2 linked regions of the Homo sapiens genome follow. The protein of the gene in region 1 interacts with the protein of each later gene in a biochemical or structural test. Each region holds a gene or a part of one and is shown in the gene's direction. Other genes may lie near its edges.

Region 1 (5,694 bases):
GTCTCAAAAGCGTTTTCTTATTTGGTTTGTTTGAATCATGATCCAAACAAGGACCACACATTCATTTTCTTGTCATGTCCCTTAAGTTCTTTTTAGTGTAGAGAATTCCCCATTCTGTTTTTTCCCTCATGAATTTTCCAGTTGTCTTGTTAAATGCCCCCCATTCTGTATTTTTCTTCTGCTTCCTTGTAATATTATTTAACTTTATCTCTCATAATTGTGGTAAATAAAGTTTGCTTTAGGGACTTGACGTTTGCTTTTTTGGTAAGAACATTTTGCAAGTGGTGCTGTGTGCTTCATATCACGTCACGTTGAGAGGCTATCTCACTTTTGGTGATGCTAAGATTGATCAGTAGGTTCAGATGGTGACAGCGTATCTTTATCTTACTACTTTAACCTAATGGTTTCATTCCTTGATGATCATTGCCTCAATCAGTTATCTTATTAGGAGTTGCAAAATGGTGATTTTCTAATTTCCTCCCTATCACACTGAAATTTCTTCTGTAAAAGGAACTTTTTCTTCATCCTCCAAGACTGCTTGATCACCCTGATGTACAGTTTGTATAGTAAAGGCAAGATAATTTTTTTTCTTTTTAATGGACAATTTTTGTAAAAAGGAGTTGGCGGTCTCATTATTTCTAATGGTATCCAAGGAGTTAGGATTTAAAAAAAATTTGATCTTTACTTTATAAAATTACCATTTTGAATGCATGGGCTTTAATAAATATGTTTCAGTTGTTGCATTTGGCCAGTGGGAGACCTTAACTTCTGTGACACTCCAGTCTAGTTTTTTCCTACCTCATTGTTAGTCCTCCTTATTGCTTTTGTCCACTCATCTTCCTCTCTCTGTCTCTACAGAGATGTTACACATACTGTTGGCCTTTACCTCTACCCCATGGCTTAGCTGACTCCTTCCTTTAGGCCCTAACTGAAGTGCTAATGGAACTGTCTTCTCTTGACCCCTCTCTCAGGCTTGATCAGCTCCCTTATTTAGTACTCCCAGAACCTCTGTACTTCTCTGAAGGACTTATCACAATTGTTAATATTTGTTTGATGTGTTCAGTTTGTTTAATGCACCTTGTCTACCTTGTTTACCACTGTATCTTTAGTATTTGGCTCTGAGCACTTAGTAGGTACTCAGTAAATATTTGTTGTATGAATTAATGGTGAATGAATGAATGAATGTGTTTATAAAAAACCAAGAGAGACTGTGTTGTCAGGAAATTTAAGGGAGAAGGGCTTTCAAGGAGGATGTGTATTCAACAGAAGGTGAAGATTTTCTTTGGGGGCCAAAGGAATAATCAACAGCATGGGAGGCTGACTGCATATGTCTCGGTATAGAGATCACAGTTGATTCATCTCATGTAAAAGTTGAGGAAGATAAAGCCCAGGAATTTCTTGCTCAAGGATAGAAAGCGACCTTATAATAAACCAGGATTCAAGTGTTCTGAGTTCTAGTCCAGTTCTTGCCAATGTTTATATATACTAATTTGGGAATTAATACTTTTCTGGAGAGTAAAAGAGCCTCTCTCTAGCTCTGTAGAAGCTCCATGGACCTTGTGGTACTTTCAATGTTTAGAGCTGAAAGAGAACTTAAACAATATCTAATACAGTGTTTTAAAACTCAGGTCATTTTGGTATTCACGTTTTCTCCTCATCTACATACCATTTGTATTACTATTTAAGAATTTTCTTTAAATCAGTTTACTTTGAAACACGAAATACAGTTATTTTAAAGTAAAATTTATTGCTGCTATAAGTGGAAAATTAGTATCATTTGCTCTAAGGAAAAGGTAATTGAAATTAAGTACAAAGAAAATATAGTGTAAATAAATTCTAGGTAGATAACTTTGCCTTAAGCTCTGAGCCTTAGACTTGCTCCTCGCTTTGTTGAAAGATGACATACTTATCTCACACTTTGGGGCATATTTATCTGCCCTAAGAACTTGGCCCTTCTTTCCATTAGAGAAATTGGTATCCCAGAGAGGTTGATTTGCCCAAAGTTACACAGCCATCTAAAGTTTTAGCCTAGAATACTGATGGTTAATCCATTTGTTATTACTATATATATTTTTTAATAATGAGAGAAAGGAAAATGTTTAGTAAGCTGGTATTTGATATAACAATGATTTTTAGACTTTGTATCCCCCAATTTGTATTTATTATATAAATATAACAGCAATAAAGGTTATTTTAAAAAATCCTACATCTTTACAAACTTTTTTTTATCCACATGCATCCCTTCCTCCCTCCCTCCATTCTTTCATGTGTAGGTTTAATATTGTGGACCCAATCTGTGTTCTGGTAATGGAATTAATTTGGATAACATCATTAGGGCTGGGCACAGTTGCTCATGCCTATAATCCCAGCACTTTGGGAAGCTGAGGCAGGAGAGTCGCTTGAGCTCAGAAGTTTTGAGACCAGCATGGGAAACATAGTAAGACCCTGTCTCTACAAAAAATAATTTTAAAAAATTAACCAGGTGCACATTGGTGCACTCCTGTAGTCCCAGCGACTCAGGATGATGAAGCAGGGGTATTGCTTGAGCCCAGAAGGTTGAGGCTGCAGTGAGCCATGATCTTGCCACTGCACTCCAGTCTAGGCAACAAAGTAAGACCCTGTCTCAAAAAAATATTATTAGAAAAACAAATTTAACGTTATAAGGTTTGGCCTAGTGTGTTAGTTTCCTATTGCTGCCATACCAAATTACCACAAACTTAGTGGCTTAAGACAATAAAATTTTATTATTTTATAGTTTCTGGAGATTAGAAGTCCAGAAGTGGGTTTCACTGTGCTAAAATGAAGGTCCTGGCAGTACTGCGTTACTTCTAGAGGCACTAAGGGAGAATCCATTCTCTTGCATTTTCCAGTTTTTAGAGTCTTCCTGCATTTCTTGGCTCGCGGCTCTTCCATCTTGCCATATGCCAACAGCATAGCATCTTCAGATCTGTTTGACTCTGAGCGCACTCTTCCACTTTTGAGGATCTTATGATTACGTTGAGTCCCTCCTGATAATCCAGGATAACCCTCTATCTCAGCATGCTTAATTTAATCACATCTACAAAGGCCCTTTTGCTATGTAAGATAACATATTTATAGGTTCTGTAGATTAGGATATGGGCATCTTGGAGGGGGCCATTATTTTGCCTACCACGCCTAGGATCTGGATTAAGTTTTGTTTTGTTTTGTTTTTAAATACTAATTTTGGGTACATTTTTAGCATTAGGTGGTCTCTTCAGTCAGCCTACACAAGCTCCTACCCAGTCCAACCAGCTGATAAATACTGCGAGTGCTCTTTCTGCTCCAACGCTGTTGGGAGATGAGAGAGATGCTATTTTGGCAAAATGGAATCAACTGCAGGCCTTTTGGGGAACAGGAAAAGGGTATTTCAACAATAATATTCCGCCAGTGGAATTCACACAAGAAAATCCCTTTTGCCGATTTAAGGTATTATTAATACTATTTTTATCTTCAGTTGAAGATTTTGTATAACAGAAAATATATTTAGATTAATATCAAGATAACAATTGCTTGGATCTTTACTCCTTGAACATGGTATGATTATACTTTTATTTTGAAAATATAGAAATTATAAAATTGAAGTGATTTCATACATATGTGTGGTTGAAGGTGACCAGAATATGAATGAAGGAAGGTGTGACTGGAATGTGATTTATAACTGAAGAAAAAAAATGTAAACAGGAGAATGGTTTGCCTGGCACCTGTAAAGGGGAGACACCAAACTACAATTTAGTGGTATTCATTTAACATTGGCCAGGAGAGTATACCCTAACCAGCAGACAGAAATTCCCCTTGGCATGTATAACCCCAAAGCTATTAAAACAATATTGCCCATTTTCTGTGTTCTTATTCCCTGCCTACCAAACAACCTTCTCATTTGTCTCTTCAGAAAATCTCTTTATCAGCCAGTGAGAGTATTTAGGTCCATTTGGTAATGCATTTTCCATAACAAATTACGTATTGCAATCCAGTTTATACCTCAGCCTCTTAGGAGTTATATTGGCCTACGTTGGTCTCTTAAACCTAATCAATATGTACATAACCCTGTGTTTGGAGCTGTAAGGCTGAGGATCAGATCCTTGAATAAAGTGGTCAGCCTGTCTTATTACAGAACATCTCTTTGTGTCATCACTAACAAAAAGTATATTGAGTGCATATAGTTGAAATTTTGATACATGTATTTAGTCGCTAAGAGGTATTCAATAATAGACATAAGTTGAATATAACAATAAAGTTGGTGTATAACATGGTAAAATGCATAATGTACACTTGAGTTAATTTAAATTCTTTTTTAAAAGTTGCAGGTGAGTGGTGAAAAGGGATAAAAGGCTTCTATCTAAAAGAGCAATTATTTAGAAAAGTATAATTGGTCATATTAATATGTAAAAAAACAACAACCCTGTTTCATAAAGTTTTGTATTATATAAACCAATAAAGTGATACAGACATTCTTTATAGTATTTGTAAGTTGACTGTCATTACTGTGATTTAAAAGTATTTATTTGTAAATTACTTCTTTATATATTTAAAACTTAGTTTAAGATTCCATGAATCAGATATACAGATACTCCTCAACTTATTATGGGTTACATCCCAATAAACCCATCATAATTGAAAATATTGTAATTCAGAAATGCATTTAATACACCTAACCTACCAAGCATCATAGCCTAGCCTAGCCTACTTTAAACATGCTCAGAACACTTACATTAGTGTACAATTGGGCAGAATAATCTAACATCAAGTCCATCTTATAATAATAATAATTTTATAATAAAAACTAAAAGATCAGAATTCCATGTATGGTTTACATGTATGTATATATGAATGCGTATTGCTTTCACACCCTATAAAATGGAAAAATCATAAGTTGAGAATCTGTATAGTGAAATAAATTATAATTAGTTGGTGATTTTTGCAGTCACTTTTATAATGACATGCAGATGGTTCAGAAACAACCAACAATAATGAATATCAAAATTTTTTAGGGGAGAAAGCTGTTTAGTTACTCTCTCAAAGAGGAAATGTTAATCTTACTCTATAGGTTAATGTTATTCCTGGGTAAAATAGTTTTTCTTTATAATTTTGTGACCTCCTAGGGCACAAAATGGTGGGAAGAATCATTATTCCCTTAATTACCAGACATTAAGTTGTTTTTCCCATTTTAGCAGATATTAAGCTATTAATATTAAACACCTGATTTAAGATCTGTACATATTTTTTATATTGTTTATTTTGTCATTCCACAGGCAGTAGGTTATAGTTGCATGCCCAGTAATAAAGATGAAGATGGGCTAGTGGTTTTAGTTTTCAACAAAAAAGAAACAGAGATTCGAAGCCAACAACAACAGTTGGTAGAATCATTGCATAAAGTTTTGGGAGGAAACCAGACCCTTACTGTAAATGTAGAGGGCACTAAAACATTGCCAGATGATCAGTAAGTATACATAAATATACTGTTTATTTCTGTGTATTTATTTCTGGTCCTAAGGGAGTGATCAATAATGTTTTTGTTGCTAAAGCACAAATTAACTCTCAGAGCAGAATGCCTTTTCTCAGCTAGTGATTATTCAGTATTGATAAAAACATTTATTTAAAAGTTTTTTTAAAATTTTGGATTTTTTAACTTACTAGATGCTAATAATTTTCTAGATTTTCATTCAGGCCAGGAAG
Region 2 (3,124 bases), on another chromosome or scaffold:
TGTATTGTGGCAGTCTGAACGCCCCCAGAAAATTGTGCCAAAGAGTTTAGAAAAATAAATATACAATAAAAGTAAACACATACACACAAAACAGCAAACTTCAGGTAACTATTTTGGATTGCAAACAGGATAAATTAAATGTTCAAACAATCTGATAAAATAACCATTTGGAAACTGCTTGGCCTTCTGTTCTTTTATTTGATTGACTACAATGCGGTATTGGTCTCTTGCTGCACTTCAAAAGCAACCAACAAAACAAAAACAAAAAAAAGTGTGTGTTGTGTGAATACACACACACACTAACTAGAAGTCTTGTGATGAAAATGGCACTTGGAAAAGGTTTTATTTTTCCACTGAAGTTGAAGGTTAATAAAATGGTGTCAAACGTCCCCTGGTCACACACTTGAATATTTTTTTAGAAGTGTGATGTGGTATGATTACCATAAATCAGACTTAATTATTTTCCCTTTTACAAGGGAACAGGGCATCCTGAATTTTAGAGCCTTTCAGCAATAAGAAGGGATGTTGGTGAGCTTTGATCCTCTTTTGGTTTTGCAGTTGTTAGGAGTTTTTGCTGGCATTTTGAATATGCTGCTTTCAGAAAAACCAAGGAAGTTTTAAAATTGCTTCCTGGTCCTTAGAGGACTAAAAACAAGACCCTCATTCCCACTTTCATTTCCACTCTAGCAAAAACTGGGCTTGCGTTTTTCTCCAACTCCTCGTTTATATCCTCCCTTCCATGTCCAAGCCTTCCATTCCTAAGTGGGATTGGCTCAGTTTTGCCCATCCATATGGCAGCATCTCTAATAGCTCTTGTACAGGGTATCAGATATTGTGCCTTTTGGTGCCAGGTTCAAAGTCAAGTGCCGATCTATGAACCAGTGTACAAAAAAAAAAAAATCCAGGTATTTGAAGGAGAGACGCTCCATTGTGAATAAAGAGCTCATACCAGCTCCTAAGCCCTATTAAGAAGAGGCCTGGTCCTCTAATGCCTTGTTTCCATTTCAGTTGTTCTTTGAGAGACAGAATGATGTACTAACCATTCGTGATTATTAAGATAGGGTTGGGTCAGGGCTTAGGGAGGGGGCAGAAATATTGGGGATAGAAAAAAAATCTGATCATTCCTCAGTGCTACCCATTTCTGTCCTGTGTGGGCTGCTTAGCTAGACAGCAGGAGAATAAAGTACACCGAGAACCATAATGAAAAAACCTTCCGTGTGTTTTGTCATGTTTTGTTCCAGGGAAGCAGTTGATGAGTGCTGTTACTAATGCTTTCTCCCAGATCCATTCAGTGGTGGAGAGGAGGAAAATGGGCTGGTTGGATGTGGTCTTGGTGCCTTGCAGTTACTCTGCACTGGTTATGCATTTAATTCTCCTCTTTTCTAGTTAACCTTTTGCCAGTGGGTTTTCCATAGTCTGGGTATTTGTCCTTATATCAGTTATACCACCTAAGGCAACTGGGTGCAAAATGCATTCTGTTCACTCACTGTCTGGGCCTTCCCCACCCTAGTCTTGGCACATTCCTTCAAGAATGTAGTTACCGTCTGCTTGGGAAGATGTCAGTGCAAATGTGAAGATAATGGGCATCGGACTAGGCTTTGGTTTGCCACAAGTGGCAGCTGCCTGTATCAATTACATTTATTAATTTTGCTTTTCATTTTTCCCAGTTCTCCTCACCCCCCCTTTGTTGAAATGTTGGACTTGCTGTCAGAGGCAACTGTAATATTGCCTTAGGGACTTGTGGAGAAGGGGAATTGCTCAGTGTAGTGTTTTAACTTTCAGAACCAAGCAATCTATTTACTCTTACAAATATTTAAGAAGTGTGTTAGTCCAACTTTAAGAAAAATCCAAACTCATCAGCTTTTGATAGCATCTTGGTTTTTGAAACAACTTCAATCTGTAATTGGCATTCAGAATGCCCTTGGCATGCCAGTCTGTGATGGCATTTAAGACCTGTAAAACACTTGAGCCCAACTCGATTAACCAAAACCGATAACCACCACCTTTATCTTCTAAATAAAGTCCGCTTTATTTTTATTTTCAACATCTTGCTGCTTTTTTTTTTTTTTTTTGTCCCAAATGGTGTCACCTCCATGGAGGTGAAATGGTTTGAAAGTCAGAATGTGTGGTGAGAGGTGTTTGTGTATGTATGTGTGTGGGGAAAAGGAGGGACACACATCTTGAAATGGATATTACATAGTGTAATGTGATATAGATGAAACAGTGTCCTACAAATGAGGTAAGGAAAAAGTATGCATGGAGGATGTTTCGTGTTTGGAGAGTTTGAAGCATTCCTCATCAGTAAAACAGGAATACTGACTAAGGTTGTTCTGCAAATTAAAACATAAAATCTCAGTGTTTACCATTTTTCACTTCAGGTGGGCCAAGCTGGCACCTTGGAGGCCAGGTGGAACTGCAGGCTTGCACTGTGTTTCTGAGTGTTTGTATTGGGACCAGGTATACGGTAATGGGGTTTCTTGTGGGAGCAGTTGCTCCTTCTCTGCCATTTGATGAACTAATTGCATTCTTTTCTCAAATCTCACCTTCAGTGGAGAAATGTTCTCAGTGAATCATTGTCCTCTGTTTGTGCCTATTTCTCAAGCTAATTCCGTGTCTAATGGATCATCCAAAAGTTGGCCTTTCACTTAGTTTTCATCATGTATTTCATTTCTACTTGCATTTCCCCCCCTCAAGAAACTTAGAACACTAGTTTGAGATTTAGGAGACTAGGCCCTTTCCTTTAACCCTGCTGCTTATTAGCGTAGTGGTGCCTGCAGGCTAGTTCATGGAAATACACCCTTTCTTAGTTAAGCAAAGTAAGGGCTGTAGACTCCCTTTTCTGATTGTACACCCTGTTAGTAAACTTTTGATCATGCATACCCCATGTGTTTATAAATAACATACTTGGACTACTATAACCACATATTGTGTAATCATAAGACACAAAAATAGAAAGTAAAAAGCAATTACATGATAAATAGAAGTTCTAGTATTTCTAAATCCAATTTGGAGGTTACTGAGTTATAGAGAGTAAATTTTTACCAGACTGCATTAAGTCCTGAACAGCAATGATTCACTGAGAACATTTCTCCACTGAAGGTGAGACTTGAGAAAAGAATGCAAT

The links. Proteins that work in one complex are often made in the same cells at the same time.
Region 2: the proteins of NUP54 (region 1) and KPNB1 form a complex in vitro, tested with the Homo sapiens proteins (one study listed by BioGRID).

The regions. Positions count from the first base shown.
Region 1 is NC_000004.12:76,133,939-76,139,632, reverse strand, and holds part of NUP54 (nucleoporin p54), read left to right. Parts: intron 1-3,220; coding exon 3,221-3,447; intron 3,448-5,270; coding exon 5,271-5,458; intron 5,459-5,694. UniProt on the Homo sapiens protein: Component of the nuclear pore complex, a complex required for the trafficking across the nuclear membrane.
Region 2 is NC_000017.11:47,683,462-47,686,585, forward strand, and holds the end of KPNB1 (importin subunit beta-1), read left to right. Parts: 3' UTR 1-2,044; downstream 2,045-3,124.